Linked DNA regions of Homo sapiens. The protein of the gene in region 1 interacts with the protein of each later gene in a biochemical or structural test. Each region holds a gene or a part of one and is shown on either strand. Other genes may lie near its edges. The genes, in order: EYA2 and GNAZ.

Region 1 (16,298 bases):
GGACAGCTTGGGCCCATCGCAGACCGGAGGTGAATCATCTTCGGGGCTCCATTCTTTTTCATGTCTGGACGGGGCTAAAACTCTGTTGACAACACAGGCACAAGTCACAACTTGTTATACCACGTGACACCTTCCGAGCAGCGGAGGCTTCCCTCTACTCTAGGAGTCACACAAAAGGCCAAAGGTGCACGATTCTCCTCGGGGCTCCTTCCTCTCCGCTCCCTTCCCAACCAAGAAGGACACGCAGAACTTTGCTGGAGAGATCAATGTTTCTAGAACACCCTGAAACAAAAGTCCTGATATGTGCAAATAATACACACCCACAAAAGAAAATAACCTCTTTGCGCTGACACCCTGCCTCTCCGAAGAGGACGTTTTCTCCCTACTTGGAATTTCCATCAGCACCTGGGTTGGTACCAAACTCAGGACGTGGTGGACACGCTCTCTGACTCTGTATTTCAGGAAGCTGCCAATCAATAGAGATTTAAAGGTGAGTACTTATACCTTGCATCTTAAATGCTAGAAAACATAGTGGGAACAAAAAATTGTTTTGGAAACCATGAATACCTTAACCACAAAGTGACTATAGGAAGGGAATGGGAGGTGAAGAAACTGACCAGAAGGAACATTTTCATTTCATTTTATTTTCAGCTTCTGACTTCCGCATATCCGAATACCAGGTAGGAAACATCTGCTTTGGAGTAAGAGAAGGCCCCAGTACCTGCTTTTTCTCCGGAACCGTGAGAGGGAGCCATGGGGAGGAGACCAGAATTTCAGCCTTCCTATCTCCCTTTACCACAAGGACGCCTTGAGGACCCAAGTCAAATTGAGATCTTTCAACCACGGGCTCGGAAACCCGCTTTCTGTGTCCACTTCAACCAAACACGTCTAACAGGCAGGAATTTAGAGGTGGCCAAGGTAACGAGAACTAGTGGTTTTCACCCTGTTTGGTGACCTTCATAGGGCTTATTTATGCACTTCAAGCGCATGACCTAATACATGTTGGTTTGGCTTCTCTTCTCGTAATAGCAGCCTGTAAAAAGCTTTTGAGAATTCCCCGTGTTTTCTCATTTTGGGTCAAGAAAATAAAATCGATATCTAAGTAACCTTAAAAAAATGGCCTGCACAATCTAAAAATTTGGAATGTTTCCACTAGGACTAAGGATATCTCTGAAAGCCTCAAAGATCATCAAAATGAAGTCCAACATTTGCTGTTTTTAAGGTGAGATATTTGGTAACGGAGTATGAGAGAACTGGCTAAGGGGGCTTTTTGACATAAGTCAAACAATGACATTTAAAACTCACGTAAAAGCAATTACTGTGTGGAATTTTTCTGTGTTTTTCTCATTTCTTAAACAGAAGTGTATATGTTTTCAGCATAGCTTCTTGCTGTAATTTTCTTTCTTGACAAACCCACATCTTACCATGAAACCCAAAGTATGCATGCTGCAGAAACAATAATGGTTGAAACAGACCCGGCTGTCTCTGGCATGATTTTTCTTTACAAAATTAAAATGTCTTTTGGCTAATACACGTGTATTTCAGTTATGAAAGGCCATTCTTGGGAGATGAATAGAAAAGAAAGGGGAACTGACAGATTTAGCTGACGCGAGACAAAAGTAAGTTGCCATATACAGTAGTCAAACCCTCCAGTTCCTCATTCTTTGGGGAAAAATATGTTGATTTTATCATTTTTCCTTTAGTTACATTAGCAGAGAGTTGACAATTCTCCTCTGAATGACTGCAAGTAGATACGTTCGTATCTATTACATCTGGGAACACAGACTTTTAAAAAATGTAACTTTACTAGATACTCAAAAGGAAAAAAGAAGAAGAAAGTGCAATGCCATTGAAATTACACACATTTTCATGTTACTGACACAACACTATTGATACCAAATGACAAAAGAGTTTCTAACCTCTATTACATACTTTGTTCATTTTTAAAGATGTTTAAATTGGCATTGCGGCGCGTCTAAGTTCCTGTTTTAGATTTCTGCATATATCTGAAGGCAGAGGCAGACTTTTCAAAAATGCACGAGCAGGCACAACTGTGTTCTGACTACTATCATCCAAAGGCGATGACAGCGCTGACGAAGCCCCTGGATCCTGCCAAAGTTTGTCCCAAAGACGAGTCTCTCAGCCCCCACTGACCCGCAGCCTGCTGGTTCCAGATTCAGGCAACCAGTGGCCTCCCTTAACGTTCAAAGAGGCAAAGATAAATCATTCCAGCTACCTGACTCTCGGCACCACCTGTTCCAAATTATTCTTTGCTCTCCAAATGTTTAAAATCTAACCCGAAACAACACCCACCCATAGCGATCCAGCACCTTCCGGTAAACTTGACTTGGGCTGCGCCTACCGTAATGTTTTAGGGCCTCTCCACTGCCGGTAAATTTATTGACTCTTTTTAGGACCTGAAATGCGTAGTGTTAGTATCGAAGGAATAAATCAAATTAGCCCTTAAATAAACCGTCATTTTCCTTTACAGAACCATACCCAACCGGTTAAGGGTCATGGCTCACAGAGGTTTGTATTTGTGTTCCTGAATATTTAATATGATTTTGTTTCCCCATTTCAAACGACAGTGGCAAAAAACGTCAGGGCAGGTTCAGAAAATAACTGTGTTCTGTGCATTTAAAACCATCCAAATTCAGCATCTTCCTCCAAAGGAAATGATAGCAGAAATGTTTTGAGCCAAAGCTTGTATTGCACATGGATAAGGCATACTTTGCAGAGAAGCAAAAGCGTAGATTTCATTTTCACTCAGTCTGGCCCTGTGTCGGTCATTTGACCTGCGACTCAGTTTCCTTGTTAACAAAGTTGAAATAATGATAATAATACTCAAGGGGTTGCGGCAAGAATCCACTTTAAAAATACACGTGAAGAGCTGACTGCAGGCCTGGTATACCAGTTCTCAATAAACAGCAGCTATTTTCATCATTACTATTAAACAGAAGGGTATAATTTGCAAGTCAGAGAAATGACAAAGGAACTCAATAGGATGAAAATGAACAAAAAGAAATATGCACTAAAAATGAATGTATAAGCCTGTGGCTTCCTTCATGCCTTTTCCTCTAAATACACCTGGCAGGTACCTTAAAACTGATTTTAAATCACACGCCGTAAAGAACAAGGTCTTGCCCCTCTGATTCATTTACAATAACACAAGTGGGTCTGCAGCCTCAGTTACTGTCACTTCAAGTATTTACCACCTGACGGAGGGGGTGTTTATCCTCCTCCGACTAGAAAAGGGTGTTAGTCAAACACCATTAGGCCAGTTACGATCTTCAAACAGTGAAAACGAAGCATTGTCTCCAGCGAATTCTCTGCTAATTGTTTTCTTACCAGAATCTTCTTTTTGTTTTGTATGTTTAGGACTGTTTGAACTGCCACAAATGATAGTGGGGAGAAGTGGGCCATTCAGGAAGCTGTTATGACATTGGGGGATGGAGATCAGGGAAGAGGGTTGGGAGTGAGTGAAGAATTGTGGTGTGTGTGTGTGTGTGTGTGTGTGTGTGTTTTCTGTCAACAGGCTGTGTTTTCTTAACTCTGGGATTAATTCTTTGTAAAGAGATTCCTTTTGAGCACAGTCTACCAACTCCTTTTTCAGAACAGTTAGCTAAAAAAAACAAAAACAAAAACAACCAAAAAAAAAAAAAACCAACACAAAAACCCAAAAAACCCGGTTCCTTCCACCAACAAAACCCAGTCTTAGTCAGAAAGTCCAGCCTTTGGAGGTAACAGACTAACCAACTCCTTCACCCTCACAAACCTCACAGATAAGGGGAACCACATCATTAGGCGAATTCTCCCTTTATCAAAAGTCTCTGGGGGAGCAGGTTCTCCTCTCTCCCAAGGAATTTATGTCAGGCCAGGCAGTCTTTCTTTTCATTTTGTGCCCAGGTGGGAAGCAGTTAAGTTTTTTACACTGCCCCGCACGTGACACCAATCCTTCTCCCCAAGCCTTTGCACACACACACACAGCATACACCTAAGACCTGAAGACACTGCCTAATACTTATAATTGATTCTCCCCCAAGCATCTTTGTATGAAGGAGGCCTGCCCAGCAAAGACAAAACTCTACCCCAGTCGCAACTTCCACTCCTCCGCTCTGCGATCATGTGCGTGGATACTTAGGAAAGGCATGTGTCTAAAGAAGGCACCTCCACTCCCTTCATTTTCTCCTGACAGCCACAGGCTCTCTTCTCTCTCTGCCCAGAAAGGCATCTGTCATAAGCGGCTGGGAACCTCACTTATTCACCATTACGGCCTGCGATTTTATTATACAAGGAGTTTACTGCTGGCCTAATTAGTTTCAAACTGGGCATTCCAGCTGAGGACACCTAAAAAACATCTGGTGGAAGGAGAGAGAATGAGTCCTCGCTCTGAGCTGGTTACGGTTGGATTTCTGCATAACTCTGCTCTCTTGCGCCCGATGCAAGTTGTCTTTGGAAAAGTAACTGAAAAAATAAGGAAACGGTTTCTTCTTTGTGGGAAAGGAGTCATCTTGTCACGGAGGATCCAACAACGTCTTAAAGTGGACGTGCTTGGACTGTGTATATTTTTTCACAAACGGCTGGGGTCTCCATAGCTTGCTCACCCTAATTCAAAATGTACTTAGCTACACCACAGAGCCTTTTTGCTGAGGGCTTTTCCATTCTCCCAACAGCAGCTAGCATTTTATCAATTTATCCATCTGGAACAAGGTTTGCAATCTCTTACACGCAATTTAAAGCAGAAGTAATACCACATATTTGAAACAGCGTGTCTTGGGCGTTTTTGCCAAATGGTAATCCTATAACAAGTCAACAAATCATACCTCTTTATGATGTGTTTAATGCAAAACAAAAGACATGAAAAGAAGATTCTAAAACTTACGTGATGAAAACTTTTTAAAAAAATCCTAAAGTATTGAGATACACATCTTTTTATTTTATTTTATATTTCCTTTAGTTTTTCTGATATTGGGGAAGTGATTTGTGTGTTTATAGAGTATTCTCATACACATGGTCACAACACCAGGTGAGCTATTTTAAGACAGAAAAGAAAAATGCCAATTCCTTTCAGATAAAATAGTGAATGATATTGTGAAGCTGAAGTTACAAGAGAATGGGGACATATAAACTGCTTTAAAGTAAAAAAAAGTTCAGGCTCTTTTGCATCTAACCACATTGGTCTTTTCACAATGGCAAAAGTTAAGAGTTTGCTACGAAGGCAAGGAGATTTTTTTTAATACAAACACAATTTAATGCTTAGTCAAAAGCAAGATTCAAACCACTATCATTTGTTATTTGTTATATAAATTATAGAAGAACTTACCCAAGTGTGAGAGTGTCTAAATGCAAAGATATGTAAAGGATGAAGGGGCTTAAGGTGATGAAGAAAGACAAGTGGAAAAAATGAACATTTATTTATCGAGTAAAATTGTGAAAGATTCTTTCACAAAGATTATTTTGAAAAAGAGGTTCTCTCCTCCCACTCTTTCTTTGTGTACCTCTTTTTTTTTTTGTAAGCAGGATGGTTACATGTGTATGTTAGTTGCTAACAAATGGGTCATAGTCTGGTAAGGTGCTTACTAGTTCTGTATCTATTATGGTCACAGACATTTCACTCAATCAAGAAACGGCTCATGAAATTAATAGATTCGGTTTGAAATACAATTGTCCACTGGTTATAATTTCCTTTGTAAGGGATCTCCCTAACTCAAACATAATTCAGTGCTCAAATTCTTACATGATGTTTGTAAATCATCCTCCTGCCCCTCCGCCCTCGCTAACAGCTAGATTCCAATGTTCAGCTCTTCCACTGCACCTCGTAATTAAAAGGTACCTCTTACCGGGGTGATTTATACCTCCACGTTATATTTTAAAAAGTAATTGAAGATTACATAGCATTTCGGGGAAGGGGAAAGAAAAGAAAAGGGTATCCATAAAAACGCAGCATCGGTCTTGCTTTTTAAAAAGAATTCAGACCGCGGCAGGGTGCACGCTGTCAACTCTCAGCCTCGGCTTCGGGGAAGCAGGAACCTCGCACTGCAAAAGGCGCTTCCAGTTCAACAGCTGAGAAAAGCGCACTGAGTCTTTTGCGATAGGAGTACGTTCACCAGTCACGCTTTCCTAGTATTCCTTGAGCTTATAAACTATTTATTGCTGGGGGGGAGGCAGGCAGGAATATATTGAAGGAGCCTGGGCCAGCACGGCCGTTTAACCTCCAGACTTCATGACTAAAAAACAATTCCATTTCCCACTTTCTCCCATTACAACGAAATCCTTGCCGCCTTCTAAACACCCTTCGGATGTAAACTTTTCTAAGTTTCAACTCTACCCGCAGCAGGCGCCAGGATTCCCTGCCCCGGTTCAAAGCCCCAGACCTGAACCAGAGCGGGCCGAGCGCAAACGGACTTTTGAAAAGAAATATATCAATAGCTAGAAGGCAAAGTCTCAGCGGGCCGTTCCAGCCCCAAGCCGGGATTCCAGCGGTTGGCTCTGCTTCTTGGTTATCCCATAAACACTACCTGAGGGCTTGAGTTTGCGGACTGGGGGAGCGCCCCTTATCGCGAACCGCCGGGACCATAATCGAACAAAACGCCAAGGACCCAGCCGCGTCTACACCGCCTGCGCGCCATGCACTTGTCCCGCGCGCGGGAGAGCAAACTTCAGGGTCGTTGCCCCAAAGCGCATGGGGAAACTGGGGCCCCGAGCCTGGGAGAGCCTTTCCAGAGGGGGGCTCTGCTGCTGTCCCCTCTGCCCTTGTGCCTTCCTGGCCCTGGGAGGCCCGTGCGCCCCAGAACGTCCCGACAGCTGCGGAGGCCCCGCTTGGCGAGTGCCAGAAAGAGGCGCAGGGCGAGGGGGTCCCGGTGAACAACTCCCCCCGCCCGGCGAATCCCGGCGGGCGGCCTGGGGTGGGCGCCGCTGGCGGTACTCACCGCGCGCAGTGGAGAGGGCGCCCCGACGCGGTGCGGGCGGGCGGGCGGGCCGGTGCGGGTCCGACGAGGCCGGGCTGACTGCGGCGGGCACGTTGCTGTCTCTGCCGTTGCCGCTGCCTCCGCCTCCTGGGCTGCCGCGGCTGCTGCCTGCGCCGGGAGGACCGGCCCCTTCTCCTCCCTGGGCCGGGCCCTCCCTCTGCCCCCGCCCGGGTCCCCGCGCCGCTGCGTGGGCGCGTGGGGGCGCCGAGGCGCGACGCTGGGCTACGCGGGCGCACACACCCGGCGGCTGGACGCAGGGCGCGGGGCTCTGGCCCAGCACGTGCCGCCGCGCCGCTTCCTGAGCCTGCAGCCGAGCAGAGCGCGCTCACTCTCGCCGGTCCTGGAGGCCAGGGCCCAGCCTCCTCCCCACCCACCGACACCCCGCACCTCCTCCCTCCCCGGGGCAGCACATCCTCCCTGCAACCCAGGCATGACCCCTGTGAAAGGAACGACGGCTCGGAGAGGACCTCAATAGTGACACTAACATTCGTTCACTCAACCACCCATTCATTCATTCAAAATATATTGAGCATCTACTGTGCCAGGTACCACTCCTGAGAGACTCAGCTAGAACAAGACAGACTAGTTTTCTGCCCTCCCGGAACTTGCATTCACATGGAGAGGCAAACCATAAACAAATAACCAAGTAAAGAAGCAAGACAGTTTCAGAAAGTTAGAGTTACAGGGAGAAAAATAATATATGTATCTGCTGTTGGGGAGTGGAGGAGAGGCGGTAATTTTAGCTAGAGCAGTCAGGGAAGACCTCTCTGAGGAGGTGACATCTGAATTATGAGGAAGTGCCATTGGTGTGGTATTTAGGTGAGAACGGTTCAGGGGTCTCCCCTATGTTTCACCCATTTTACAGCTAAGGAAACTGAGGTCTCAAGAGCTTAACTGGTTTAGTGAAAGTGAGAGGTATAGCCCCCTCCACCTACATGCCCAAATCAAGGCACCCCACTTACTCCATCCTCTCATAGCCACCCCCCTTTTAGTCTCCCTGGCAATGAACTGTGTTAATTGGAGTCTATGCAGCCTTTCCTAGCCCGTCACCCACTCTCTAATGTCTATGAATTCCACCGTGGGACACCCAGGATGCTTCAATCCAAAAGCAATATCAACCACTGTCATTTCTTAAGTGCAGTAAAAGACAGGGCACCCAGGTGAATTTGAATTTCAGAGAAACGAGGAATCAGTTGCAGTATATGTCTTATGCGATTGGTTGTACGTACTTATATTTAAAAAGTATTTCTTTTGTCTCCGAAATTCCAATGTAACCGGGGGTCCTATATTTTTATTTGCAACCTTAAGCTCATCCAATGCCCAACTCTTCCTTATCTCATGTAATCCCCAAGAGAGACCCCAAGGTAGCTGCTGTCAGCACACTCATTTCACAAATGAGCAGGTCCAAGCTCAAAGAAGGCAGAAAGTGGCTGAGCCAGGAATGAAATTCAGGCCTGGCTGACTCCAAAGCCGTTGCTCTTGAGCCGTAACAGTCTTCAATTCCAGTTGTAAGTTTACAGGAGCTGATGAAGGTTAAGTTCTTGGGCCCCTGACTTGCTTGGACCCCTTTCTAAGGGGACTTAGAAAAGTGTTCAGATGGTGGCTTGTTGATGTAAAGTTTACAAAAGTCCTTTGCTTTGGACATTTGGCTGCAGGCCGTAGACACCGCTGTCTTTCCACTCCGATTCCCCACCCCCAACTTGCCCTTGAGTAGGGTGGTGTCAGGTGGCTGCTGGCATTTTGGAGGAAAGTTGAGTTGGGAATTTTGTGATGTTTGTGGTAATTTTCAGCTTCTTAAAATTTGAATTTGTTGTGATTTCTTTTCTTAATTTAAAGAAATAATCATTTTCTTATCTAATCTTGGACTCATAATTTTGTACTCTTTTTCTTGAATAGGGGCTGCAAATTATACATGTATCAGGCCTCACCATTCCCAGACCCACCTCTGGTCATAGCTTACTCCGCTTTCTACTCCCCAAACTTCAGACAGAAGCAAATGTATTCAGTAAACATGGTTGTTCTCTTCTCTGGGCCTGCCGCAGTAGGCTTGGAGATGGCTCTGCTTCTGTCTTCTAGAGGCAGAATGTACATATGTACTTGGCCTTGATTTTCTCATCACTAAAGTGAAAATAACAGTACTCATCTTATACTATTATTGTGAAAATTCATGGAGCTCATGCTCATAAAACACTTTCTACTATGACTGCAGCTGGCACTAGCAATTGCTCAACAAATATTATTACTGTACACACAGCTTCACTTCCCATAGTATCTTTGCTAAGTGCTCCAAGTCATTATAAATTGAGCATCTTAATGACCTTCAGAGGTGTTTAATTTGTCTTGGCCTGTGAACCTTAATTTTTTTTTCCTAAAGGAATAGACTGGAATAGGAAATATCAAGTGAATTGTATGCAGTAAGAATATATATACATACCTATACATATATAGTTACATATATACATATGATCCCCTATATATAGTTAAATGTATACATATGGTCCCCAATTTATGATGGTTTCACTTAATGATTTTTTTGACTTTATGACGATGTGAAAGTGATGTGTATTCAGTAGAAACCACAATTGAGATACCCATACAACCATTCTATTTTTCACTTTCAGCAAAATATTTGATAAATTTCATGAGATATTCAAAACTGTATTATAAAATAGGCTTTGTATTAGATGATTTTGCCCAACTGCGAGGTAATGCAAGTGTTCTGAGTGCATTTAAGGTAGGTTAGGCTGAGCTATGATGTTCAGTAGGTTAGGCGTATTAAATGCATTTTGAACTTAGGATATTTTCAATTTACAATGGAGAGATATATATGTATATATGTATACGTATATCATATATACGTATACATACATACATATATATATACACACATGTATCTGTATCTATATCTATATCCATATCTATATCTATATCTTTGGTCAGGATGTGAAATGTTTCTTCCTGTGGCTCATGGGGAAAAATCTTGAACACTTGTTAACCAAAGGTACCCTATAGAATGCAAAGGGTTAATCTATTTCCTTCATACCATTTTATTCCTTCCCCAGAATCTGGCCCATTATTTCATAAATTACAGACACACCCCAACGACCCTGAGAGATAAGCAGGAGGCAGGTGCTTATTAATTTTATTTTTCCTTCTCTTAGCGCTGTGATTCTCAACTCTGGGTGCACAGAATCTCCAGGGAGAGCTTTTAAAAATCTCCATGCTGAGTCCCCATCCTAGACCAATTAAACCAGACTCTGGGGTGGAACTGTGGCATCTGCCTTTTTTTTTTTTTTTTTTTTTTTGAGAAGGAGCCTTACTCTGTCGCCCAGGCTGGAGTGCAATGGTGTGATCTTGGCTCACTGCAACCTTCACCTCCTGGATTCAAGCAATTCTCCTGCCTCAGCCTCCCAAGTAGCTGGGATTACAGGCATGTGCCACCACGCCCAGCTAAGTTTTGTATTTTTAGTGGAGACAAGGTTTCTTCATGTTGGCCAGGCTGCTCTTGAACTCCTGACCTCAGGTGACCCACCCATCTTGGCCTCCCAAAGTGCTAGGATTACAGGCGTGAGCCACTGTGCTTGGCCGGCATCATCCTTTTTTAAAGCTCCCTAGGTGATTCCAATATACAGCAGAGGAAGAGAATCCCTATCTTTGGGAGAGTGAGACCTTGACCACAGAGTCACAGCAGATGAGCAGAAGCTGATAGGACTTAAGCCCCCAATGCTAATTCAAGACCCTGAAAATTCAGCCACCTTCCTATGTAGAAGCACCCCCTTTCTGTCTCTTTCTTCCCTTGCTATCTCTTTGTTAAGTATTTGTCCTCATTTGATAACAACCAGCAAAATGATCCCAAACAAAATTTGAAAGTGCTAAGCCATACAGCAGATTCTTTGTGGTGTAGTCCACAGTCATGCCTACCTTGGAGTAAAACACATTTCCCCCACTCCAGTCTTCCAAGTAAATGCCCTCTAAAGCCAGAAAAACACATTAATTTTGAAAACTATGAACCTCACAATATATCCAATGTATGTATATTCATTGTAGGATATGTATATACATATCCTACAAACACACATGTGAATTCTACAAATCATGCCTTTTTTCTAAACATATTCCTTTCCCACCTGCAAAGGTCACCTCTACAGAAAAAGCATTCAATTTTTTAAAATACATTCACTTAAACCTTGGCTCTTTCCAAAAAGGATTTGAGGCAACATATAAAACCATATATATGGCAGCAGAATAAAGAAAACAAGAAAAGCAGACAACAGGGAAACAGGAAAGAAAACAAAAGAAAGTCAAGGTAAGGTTTGCACACAAAATGTGAGCTAGAAGGTCCTGGACACTTGTCAGTGGAGAACTGAGAATTAGATGCTGAGCTTCCAGGCAGCCACTGCAAGGACAGAAATGTGATCAGTTACATCAGTGGCTTTCAAACTTTCCTTTGTTTAAAATCTAGTATGTATAGAAGTTCAGTATGGAAAAAGGAGGTGAGGGTTCCCAGCCACAGCCTTATGCCTCACCCCTTTCTCCTGTAGGTATGTGTAAAGGTCTTGAAGGAACCCCCAAAGCTCTGCAGAGTCAAGATTAAGAATCATGGATTTCAAAGTGCTCCATAGTGTTCATGATTCTTTTTTTTTTTTTTTTCCTGAGGCAGAGTTTCACTCTCGTTGCCCAGGCTAGAGTGCAGTGATGCAATCTCGGCTCACTGCAACCTCTGCCTCCTGGGATCAAGCGATTCTCTTGCCTCAGCCTCCCGAGTACCTGGGATTACAGGCATGCACCACCATGACCAGTTAATTTTTGTATTTTTAGTAGAGGCGGGGTTTCTCCATGTTGGTCAGGCTGGTCTCGAACTCCCAACCTCAGGTGATCCGCCTGCCTCGGCCTCCCAAAGTGCTGGGATTACAGGCGTGAGCCACTGTGCCCAGCCAGTGTTCATGATTCTTAATTCTTCTATGAGAAAGAAACCAAATGACTTGGGCAAATCAGAGTTTTGCCTGATATTGATACAGGAGAGAAATTTTCTCATGAGTCTTTACAAAAAAGGCAGTTTATGATACAGTGTGTATGTGGGGATGGGCAGGGGCTTTTTGCAAACATTAAAAAAAAAAAAAGAGAGAGAGAGAGACAGAGAGAGAGAAATCTCACGTCCTTCCTAACCCAAGCAGACAAATACAGGGATGCTTCAAATGTCTCTTCAGTAAGTAGTTTTCCAATAAAATGACTTTGTTTTTAATACTCAAACTTCATAGAAGGCACATTTCTCACAATTATCAGATGAATATTTACAAAGAAAAACTGATATTTGTATCCCCCAAATTAGAGTTAGCATCTCCATCAAAACACCATGCAGGAAAAGCAGCATGTCAACTACCACTGAGAGAACATCAGAATCACATTTAGAAAAGTACACTAAGGAGCAATGAAAGGGACATGCAATCAGATGTGGCTGTGTTGCCACAGACAAACCAATTATTTGTTGAAAACTTTCCTGATGATTTGGTGATCAGGAAGCTATGTTTGAAACATTTTACTGCTTTGATACTTACTGGTAGACATGTGCTGTGGTTTGAATGTGTCCCCTCCAAAATTCAGGAGTTGAAACTTAATGGCCAATGTGATGGAATTAAGAAGTGAGTCCTGGCTGGGCGAGGTGGCTCACGCCTGTAATCCCAGCACTTTGGGAGGCTGAGGTGGGCGCATCACGAGGTCAGGAGATTGAGACCATCCTGGCTAATACGGTGAAACCCCATCTCTACTAAAAAATACAAAAATTAGCCAGGTGTGGTGGCGGGCGCCAGTAGTCCCAGCTACTCTGGAGGCTGAGGCAGGAGAAAAGGGTGAACCCGGGCGGCGGAGCTTGCAGAGAGCCGAGATTGTGCCACTGCACTCCAGCCTGGGTGACAGAGCAAGACTTCGTCTCAAAAAAAAAAAAAGAAAAGAAAAAAAGTGAGTCCTTGAAGAGGTGATTAGGTCATGAGGGTTCCTCCCTTGTGAATGAGATTCAGGTCCTTCTTAAATAAATAGAGGCTTGCTTCAACTTCTCCTTTGGAGGACACACCAACAAGGCACCATGTTGCAAGCAAACAGCAGCTCTCACCAGACTACCAAACCTGCCGGCACCTTGATCTTGAACTTTTCATCCTCCAGAACCATAAGAAATAAGTTTCTGTTCTTTATAAAATACCAGAATCTCAGGTATTTTGTTATGGCAGAGCAAACAGACTAAGACAGCATTTTAAGTGCTTAGCTCTATTTTAAGAGAGTGAGCTGAGATCTTGCCACTGCACTCCAGCCTGGGCAACAGAGTGAGACTCTGTCTCAAAAAAACAAACAAACAAACAAACAAAAGATAAATTAGACTTCATCAAAGTTAAAAACTTTTTTGCTGCAGAGAACATTATCAAGAAAGTGGGCCAGCACTTGGGGAGGCCAAGGCAGGAGGATCTCTTGAGCCCAGGATCTTGAAGAAGTGATTAGGCCATGAGGATTGGGGTGTTGGGGGCTTGGGTTGACCTGTCATGCATTATAATGTTTCCCATTTAAAACAATGGGAAATCAACTCTTGGGTGCATTTTCTGGCAGAGCATCAGAATTTCAGGATCACCAGTGTTCGGTGGGAGATGTTAATTCACTCATGTGAAGAGGGACCTTTGAGACACCCAGGCATGCTGCTCTTTATGCCTGCACTACCCCTTCCTGACATAGTCCTATGGTTTTCACCCTCACTCCATTCAGGTCTCTGCTCAAATGCCTCTACCCCAGAGAGACCCTGACCACCCTGTTTAAAACAGCATTCTCCTCTAACTGTTCTTCCTCTGTGACCTCCTCACCCAGCTCCACGCTGGCCCTCTCAGCTAAGCACAAGAATCTCTACACCTCCTGGCCATTTCCTTCCAAGATCTGTCACTTTTTGCATTCTCTTTTCCCAGGAGAGTAAAAACAAATAGAATGAAGCCAGAAGGCTTTTTAATACATTTGTCTTGTCTTTTTGCTGGCTTTTAGCTGGATATAATGTCTTGGATGGTGAATGGAGTCAACTGATCTCAGCGTGCATCGGTGGAATTATCTCGGAAGCAAGGACTGAGAGACATCAGAGATCCCCAGAACCCCAACAGATATTGTTCTAAATTCTAGAAGATTTTGTGGTCCTGAAGACGTAAGGAGTACCTGAAGAGACTATAGGAGTCCCTCAAGGTCAGAGGTCTAGAGACCTTTTGAGAGTGGGACACTTTTGAGAGCAAAAGGAGCATTAATAACAAAGCATAAACTAAGATTGTCCCCAGCAAACTGGGACAGATGGTCTCTCTGCCTGGAACCACCTTTGCAAAATTATGACTGAGACAGTGAAAGAGATCCAACTTAACCATCTTGCTTCTAACCTCCAATTCTGTTATAAGGAATCTCTGTTATAAGGAATCTATCCTTGTAACAGAATCTATAACAGATATAAGAAAATGTCTCTGATATATGTGATAGATTTCTGCCAATCTATGGCTTGCCTTTTATTTTCTCAATTTTGTCTTTTGAAGAACGAAAGTTTTAAATTTTGATGTCGTCCAGTTTATCAATATTTTATTTCATGGTTTGTACTTTTTGTGTTCGAAGAAACCTTTGCCTACCCCGAGGTTGCAATGATTTCTTCTGGAAGTTTTATAATTTTTTTTTTTTTGAGACAGAGTCTGGTTCGTTTGCCCAGGCTGGAGTGCAGTGGCGCGATCTCGGCTCACTGCAATCTCTGCCTCCCGGGCTCCCAGGTTCAAGTGATTCTCCTGCCTCAGCCTCCTGAGTAGCTGAGATTACACCTACACATATTATATACACACATATAAGGAATCTATATTATAAGGAATCTATCCATATAACAGAATCTATAACAGATATATGAAGATGTGTCTGATACATGTGTTGTACATGTTCTGAGTATCAAAGACATGTGATGTATCAGACATATCTTCTGAATCTATAAGGAATCTATAACAGATCTATGAGGAACTTTTACAACTCAACAATTAAGAAGACAATTAACTCAATTTTTAAAATGGGCAAAGATTTCAAACCAGCACTTCAAAAAGATGATATACAAATGGTCAATAGGCACATAAAGAAATGCTCAACATTAATAATCAAGGAAATGCAAATTAAACTCTAATAAAATGTCACCGTGTATTCAATATATTGGCTAACAAAAAGATTGACCAGACCAAGTGCTGGCAAGATGTAGAGTAGCTAGAACTCTCATTCATTGCTGGTGGGAATGTCAAATGGTGTAACCACTTTACAAAACAGTTTGGCAGTTTCTTAAAAAGTTGCACATCCCTCTGTCATCTGACACACCTATTTGACACCCAACAGGAAGGAAAACACAAATCCGCACAAAGACTTGACTTGTATACGATTGTTAACAGCAAGTTTGTTTGTAACAGCCCAAATCTAAAAACAGTCTAAATGTCCATCAGCAGGTAAATGAATAAACAAATTGTGGTATATCCATGCAATAAATGACTATTAAATTATAAAAAAGAATGAACTATTGATACACATATAACACAGATGGATGTCAAAACCATGATGTTGAGTGAAAAAGGCAGAACCTTCCCTACCAAAAAAGAATCATGATTCCATTTATGTAAAAATTTTTTTTTTTTTTTTTTTTTTGAGACAAGGTCTCACTCTGTCACCCAGGCTGGAGTGCAGTGGTGTGATCTCAGGATCTGAGCTCACTGCAACCTCTGCCTTTTGGGTTCCAGCAATTCTCCCACCTCAGCCTCCCGAGTAGCAGGGGCTACAGGCTTGCACCACCACACCCGGCTAATTTTTGTATGTTTTGTAGGGACAGGTTTCACTATGTTGGCCAGGCTGGTCTTGAATTTCTGACATCAGGAGATCTGTTCACCTCAGCCTCCCAAAGTGCTGGGATTACATATGTGAGCCACCATGCCTGGCCCATTTATGTAAACTTCTTAAACATGTAAACTAATGTATAGTGACACAAAGCAAATCAATGGTCCCCTGTGGGTGGGAGTGAAGGGAAGAATGGATTACAGAGAGGCACAGAGAAACCAGTGGGGGTGACGGAAAAGTCCAGTGTCTTGATTGCGGTGATGGTTTCATGGTGCATGTGTCAAAAATGGTAAAAAAATTTAACACTTTAAGTATTTCCAGTTTATTGTACTTCAATTATATGGTGAATACAAATATGAAAATATTGTGATATGGCCATGTGAGTTTCTTCATTAATGCACTAAATAACAGGATCTAGCAGCAAGCTAATTTTAAAGTTAGTGCTGCCTAGAAAAGGTATTTTGAGATACAACAACCATA
Region 2 (7,000 bases), on another chromosome or scaffold:
CTATCCTGAAGCCATAGTCCGAGCAGATGGGAGGAAGGACTACGGTTAGTGAACACAGTGTCCCCATCCTACAGACAACCCCAGGCTATGCCCCGGCTGGGCCTCCCAGTGTCCTTCTGCTAAAGGAAGGGGAGATGAGATGACCGGGGAGATGAGATGAACAGGGAGGCCCTTCCCTGTAACCCTGTGCTGTCCTGGCTCTGGACACCCTCAGCCACCTGTCCTGTCTTTTGGCCCACAGCCACCACGGCTGACCAGACAAAGGGTGATAGTGTCGCCTGAGGAACACTGACTCAGGAGGAAATCAAGCCAGATATTTCTCTGGGCCAGGAGTAAATAAATAAATCAATATGCAAAGGTTCCACCTATGGAGGAGAGGGTGGCCATGACAGCAGAGAAGAAGTGGGGCCTTCATTAAGAGCCAAATCAAAGAGGTTGCTGCCTTGGAGAGAGCCGTAGCCCCAGGCTCCTGGCTCCCCAGTTTCCCCAGGGAAGGAAACTGCTGACTCCATCAAACCCTCACTTGAGTGGGGAATCTGATTTCACCTTCTGGGTCTTTGAGGCCCTGCAACCTCCTGCCCTCTGCCTCCATGTGTGGCATCCCACAATCCCATCCCCTACCTTGGGGACCTAGGGGCATGAGTGGTGTCCACTACATGCCCAGCACGCCTTCCCTGCGTCCCTTTCCTTGAGAACTGAGGCTGGCACCACAGGTTGTGGCTGGACCCAGCCAGCCTCAGGGGAACCCTTAATTGCCCTGACTGTCCAGAATTCTACCACTCACTCCCGCTAGCCAGCCCCAGCCTCTCATCTGTTTTGCAGCAGTATGACTTCTCTGGTCTTGCTGTCTCCAGCCCCCTGTGCCCTGTGCTCCACCAGCAGCCAGGGGCATCCTTGTAAAAATGAGGCAGAGTATGTCTCACTTGTGCTTGAAACCTTCTCATGTTTGCTCCCGACGCTTGCTTGACATGGGCAGACCCCGAGTCAAAGTCCAGCCAGGGCACCAGGGCTGTGCAATGCCTGGCCTCTCTGACTCCCACGCCCATGCTCCCCCTCCCCCACTCCTGCCATGCTGCCTCTAGCTGCCTCTCTAGCACCATCCCTCACTCTTAACTCAGGGCCTGTGCACTGGCTGTTCCTTCCTCCTGGAAAACTCTTTGTCCAGAAAGCCAAGTGGACTTCGCTTCCGCGCCCTCTCCCCATCCAATGGCTCAGATGTCCCTTCCTTAGGAGGCCTCCCTGCCCATCCTATTTACGATGGAAAATGACCCCCATATTCGCACACAGCCACACCACGTGTGCTGCCTTGCCCCAAGCATGGTCCCTTTCTAGCACACTGTATAATTTACTTAGAGTGTTTATCGCCCACCTCTTTCCCACTGTGCCATAGGGCAGGGACTGTTGGTCTGTTTGTTCATTGATGTATCCCATGTGCCCACATGGACCTAGCACCAAGCAGGTGCCAATAAATCAATCCCAGGCCCTCGTAGTGACTGAGTGAGGAATCGGTCAACGTGGCTCACGGAGGGGATAGTTGGGGACTTCTGGGAGGTCTTCTGGAAAGGCCCGTGGCCTTCCCTGGGTGGACACGGGTAGACGCACAGCCCCCGCCCACCTGGACTTGGCCGATCCTGATGCTGCCCCACGACTAAGCCCTCAGGCCCGGGAGCCAGGATGTCCCCTCATCTTGTAAGCCCTTTGGGGCTGGGCTTCTGTTGCTACCCCTGCAAGTGTGCTCCCACCCCACATACATTGCATGGCCCCTCAGCCCCCTTAGAAGCCCTGGCCCTCACCCTTGGCCTTCTTCCTGTGCCAGTGATGGGGATAATCCCCCAAACCCTGGCCCACCCAGAGCCTGGGGCTGCAGCCCATTCCCTGTGGTCCCTGGGGACCGCAGTGGCCACACCCTCCACACCTCCTCTATCCATTCCACACCATCCTGGGAGGAGGGAGAGCCCCAGAACAGCCAGCGTGGCAAGACAAACACACTGGAGACTGAGGCCAAGCACTCCAGGAGCCACGACAGAGATGGGGGTGTCAGTGTGGCCAGGAGACTCCTTGGAGGAGGTGGGCAGTGTTGGGGGGACAAGGGCAGCCCCACCAGTGCCTCTGTGTCCCAGCCACGGGGTGGGGCAAGGCTGGGCATGGCTGTGCTTGCGTGCGTGGTGTTATCATAGAGGAAATCAATGCCTGGCACTGGCCCAGTGTTTAAGGGAAATGAATAGATTTTGGCCGAGGACAAAGAGAGTTTGATTAATCCGAAATTGGATAATGGAGGCAACACTCTAATTATTTTTCTTCCCAGCATTTCATCGAGAAATATGTTTGCACAGCATATCAGAGGTAACTGAGCGGGTGAGGGGGTGACCATGCTGGAGGAAAGCCCAGCTCGGAGACAGGCCACCCGCACCCGCCCTCACCAGCAGGGGTCCTGGTAGCCACTCTACAGGGCCACAGGAAGCAAGAGGGCTGGGTGGGGCTGGCCTGAGGCCACATGCAGCTGGGGCAGCTAAGGCCAGAGGGACATGCCATGCAGAGCTGGGCAGGAGGAGGCATGAGGGCCAAGCCCTCATGGTGGAGTTGCTCCTCCCCTGGCCTGGCCACAGTTAGGGGTAGGGCCACTAGTGTGGGGGTGCAAGAGGAGTAGGGGTGAGGTACCACCAGTTCACAGGGGGTCAGGGCCTGCTGGGGTCAGGGTGAAGGCTGTAGGTGCCAAGTTCTCCCACCCATAGTCAGAAGGGTCTTCAGAAGGCCCCTCTTGGCAGCTTGGAAGGTTTTCCCAGCTTTGCCTCTGGGGAAGCCTGATTAGCTGCTCCATAGCCAAGGTCAGACAGGACCACCGGGCCCCACAAACACAGAGCCTGGTACTTTACATGCCTCAGCCCTCCTTAGTCACCTTGCCCCCTCCTCCCTTGCTGACCCCACTCCTGCAACACCTGGAGCTGAAACCACACGGTTTAGCACCTTGTTTCCGTGGCCATCCAGCCTCCCAATTCCAAGAAGGCTTCTAGGGGCTCCTTGCTGGAACAGAGATCAACATCAGGTGTACATCCAAGAGGAGGCTCCCGGCCTTGTAGAGTGGTTGAGTCTCTACCACTCATTCACTTATTCATTCTTCAGTGTACAGAAAGAGGCTGCCATGAACGAAGCATGGGGTTGGACCCTGAGGTCACTACAGGGAGTGAGGCATCAAATGAGAGAAGAGACAGTCAGCAAGCAATGACCTGAGCTGCTCATGGGACTCAGGAAGACGGAGGCCAGTCCTTCCCAATAAGGGGTTAGCATCAGTGTCACTAAGGAAGGGGCATGTAAGGAGAGATAGGGTGGGTTAAAGCTGCTAGATAGGAGGGGGTACAGTGGTGAGGTTCACCAGTCACTGGCAAGCTCATCTAAATCCTGCCTCCCGTGCCCGCTGCAGACATCACTAATCGACCATGACTCTTTCCCTCTGGGCTGCAGCACAGCCTTAGAATCCTCTTCAGCACAGCATGCTTTGGACGGTCACTCCAGAGTTGAGATAAGGAAGGAAACTATCTGTACACTTGACCCAGCCCAGAGCTTCCAACTCAAAGGCAAGGAAGGCCCAGAGAGTGGAAAGCATTCGCAGGGTCACCATCACAGGCAGAGCTGGACTTCTACCCAGGCCTGGTGCCTTCCCCTGCCCTGAGCTCCTCTACTGGCCTGAGAGGCCACTCCTTGATCTTGGGGCACAGGGGCCACCTGGAAAGGCCACTCTACCATCATCATGTTCCTTTACTACCTTCAGGGTCTTGGCTCATCCCCTTAGGACAGTTTTCCATAGACATGCCTCTGAAGGTCATCACTCTGTGAATCCCCGTGTCTGACAAAGGCCCCACTGAGTCACATTGCATCACTGAGTGGCCCGGCGTCAGCCCGAGGCATCTGTCCACCTGCCTCTGGCTTGAGAGTAACCCACAGTTGGGCCTGACGGGGCCCAGCTGGTAGCATCCACCTGAGGGTGGTTTGTGTTTGGTGGCCAAACCTGAGGCCCAGAGACACATCTCTGGGGACCCAAAGGTACAACCTCTTAGGAGCAGAGGGTTGAGCTGGAGCAGGGGTTCTGCAGCGCACGAGCACACAGCTCAGCCCTAGGGCAAAAGGGGCTGGACAGGGCCACTGAGGCATGACTGTCTGCGAATATTCAGTCCCTCCACAGCGACTCCCTGGGTGGCGATTCTCAATGGTGACTCCGCAACGTCCCTGCCCTCATGGAGCTTACACAAACACATACGATGAATGAATCAAATAGGGAGCAGGTCACGCTGTGGCGAGTGCTAAGGGGAAAAAAATAGCAGCAGGAAAGGGCATAGGAAACATGGTCAGGAACATGGCGCTGTTCTACATAGAGGCCCCACCAGCCCTGTCTGGAGCAGGGCCACAGCCTAAGAGCCAGCCCTCACTGCCATGCCAGCCTCCAGCACAGCCTCCTCCTCAGCCACCCTTCCTATGACCAACCAGGGTGAGAGGGACCATGCTGCCCAGATGCGGGGCTGCCCAGACCTACTAAGGCACTGGGCACATGAGGTCCACTCTCCACACCTCAGAGGACCTTGGCCTCCATGACTCACAGGGGCAGACCTCACAAAGGAGCAGACCTCACAGGGGCAGACCTCACAAAGGACCTTGGCCTCCGTGACTCACAGGGGCAGACCTCACAAAGGGACCTCTGTCCTGGCAGCTCTCCATCCCAGGGGCCAAGGGTCTCCTGAAAGGTTTGCTCTAACCACAACCACGGTCCCCCATGGCCATGAGAGGCCTGGCTGAGCCCTCGGGGACGGGGTGTGTTTCTGGTTGGAGGCTGCTAGAAGGAACACCCCCGGGCTTGACACTATGTGTAAGGCCCCTCCCTGCACTGTGGCTTTTAACAGTCTCGCTTCTTAGCACTTTTTGATGGATTCTCCAGGGACGTCTCTAAAAGAGAGTTATACCTTAATTTAGAAGCAAATAACTCAAAACTCTGTGATGTGGCAGCTTCCTTTGGAAAAGAGATGAACGCAAAGAAGCCATTGCTGTGTGAAGCTGTGGCCATGTAGGTCCAGGGCCTGCTGATGGGACCATCTAAACCTCAACCTCAAGATGTGCCTCCTGCTGCCTCTTGCCCAAGGGTCCACAGACCAAGGGGCAAGAAGCAAGACATTTAGTGAAGAATTGCAGCAGGCAATTGCCTGCTGCAGTTTTCACTTTGGGTTCCCTGGGCCATGGTGCCAAGGTGAAGCTCACAGGCTGGGTGTGACTGACTCCAGCGGCCCTGAAAGTCCAACGCAACCCACCCGCCCACTCAGGGAAGGGAGGAGAAATGCTGTGGGGACTGGGCAGCAGGCAGGTTGCGGGCCCACCCTCCAGGCCTTCCTTCTCCACAGGGGCCACTACATCCCCAATATTATCCTTGAGGTCCCTGTGACCAGCCAGCTTCCTGGGCACTCACTTGGGCATCCATACAGTTTTAATGCTCTGCTGTTGCTGTTCTGGAATGCATAATTTTAGTTTTACTTTTGTAGAGACAGGCTCTTACATGTTGCTCAGGCTGGTCTCAAACTCCTGACTTCAAGTGATCCTCCTACCTCAGTCTCCCATAGTATAGGATTACAGGTGTGCGCCATCATGTCAGGCCCTTAATAATTTTCAAATGGGGGCCCCCAAAATCATGTGGCCAGCTGTGCCTGCATTGCTCAGTCCCTGGGCATGCCCTGCCTGCTTGACACAGGGGACCTGCTCTCTGGGACCCGCTCTTCTCCAGCCTCCCGAGGCGCCACTGTGACTGTGCTTCCACCTCACTTGCCCGTCAATCCTCAATCTCTCTTTCTCGATGCTTCTCAACTCATCCTCCCCACAGTGGAGGCCCAGGAGCCCAGCTCAGCCTCTTCTGATCCTACCTACCCTTGATCCCTAAGTGACCTCACGTGGTCCCCGGCCTGCCACACACCTCAGTGCCAGGGGCTCCAGGTTGCCACCTCCAGCCTTGCTCTCCCTCTGGCCACATGTGCCCATCAATGGCTCTCCAGGTCTCAGACCCACCTCCTAATTCCCCACCTCTCCAGAATGGGTTTTTCTGTATCTTGCTTCTCAGCCAATACCAGCTCCATCTTTCTACTGGTTCAGACCAAAACTGCAGCTGTCCTTTAAAAGCTGCAGCTTTAAAAAAACAAATCTCCCACCTGCATTTCTCAGGGCCTCCAGAGCTCCCACCCCTGGGTCAGCAGCCTCTCTGCCTGGGATGTTGCAGTAGCCCCTCATGGCCCCCAGCCTTACCCCACCCTAGCCTATTTTCCCACCTCAGCAGAGAGATCTTTTCAAAGTGTAGATTAGCTCCTCCTGGGAGGGCAGCTCCAGTCTCTTCTCTGCTCCAACCCTGCCAAGGTCTTCCTGCCTCATTGGGGCCCACTGAGTCCTGCAGGACCTGGCCCTGACACCCCACCCACACTCCTGCACCAGGTTCCAGCCACTCTGGTGGGGCCTCCAGGGGCCAGGGAGTGTCTGCTCAGCGCCTTTGCACCTGCTGTCTCTCCCCTGCTCAGCCACACCACTCACCCAGCACTTCTGCATGGCACTGTGTCAGTCCCCCACCCCCATCTCGTGTCCCCCACCTTCTGCTTTAGTGTTCTCCACAGTGCAGCACTTAGTAACATGTGTTACTGTCAACCCCTGCCCGTCTGGTGTGAGCACTGTGAGTGGATGCTACGTCCCTGCTGTACCCCTGCACCTGGCACAGTGCCTGGCATGCAGCAGGCGCTGGTAAATGTTAGCTGAACAAATGAATGGATGAATCGCGTGAGGTTCTGCTCCTCCGGCTCAGTCCAGAGGGCTGATGTCTCCTCCTATGTGCTCTAGGATCTGTCAAGCGGTCCCTGTTGGTTCAATCCTGTGAAGCGCCTCCCCTGGCGGTGTTCGCACGAAAGGGCCAAAATGTGTGGCAGGGGCTGGTGTGGGGACAGGGCAGGGCACTCTTGGCTTTGGGTATGGATGAGGATAATGAGGTTCA

What was found.
Region 2: the proteins of EYA2 (region 1) and GNAZ form a complex in vitro, tested with the Homo sapiens proteins (one study listed by BioGRID).

What each region holds. Positions count from the first base shown.
Region 1 is NC_000020.11:46,885,619-46,901,916, reverse strand, and holds the start of EYA2 (protein phosphatase EYA2), read right to left. Parts: upstream 7,075-16,298; 5' UTR 6,930-7,074; intron 1,530-6,929; exon of another isoform or gene 652-1,529; intron 491-651; exon of another isoform or gene 169-490; intron 1-168. UniProt on the Homo sapiens protein: Functions both as protein phosphatase and as transcriptional coactivator for SIX1, and probably also for SIX2, SIX4 and SIX5.
Region 2 is NC_000022.11:23,073,519-23,080,518, reverse strand, and holds part of GNAZ (guanine nucleotide-binding protein G(z) subunit alpha), read right to left. Parts: intron 1-7,000. UniProt on the Homo sapiens protein: Guanine nucleotide-binding proteins (G proteins) are involved as modulators or transducers in various transmembrane signaling systems.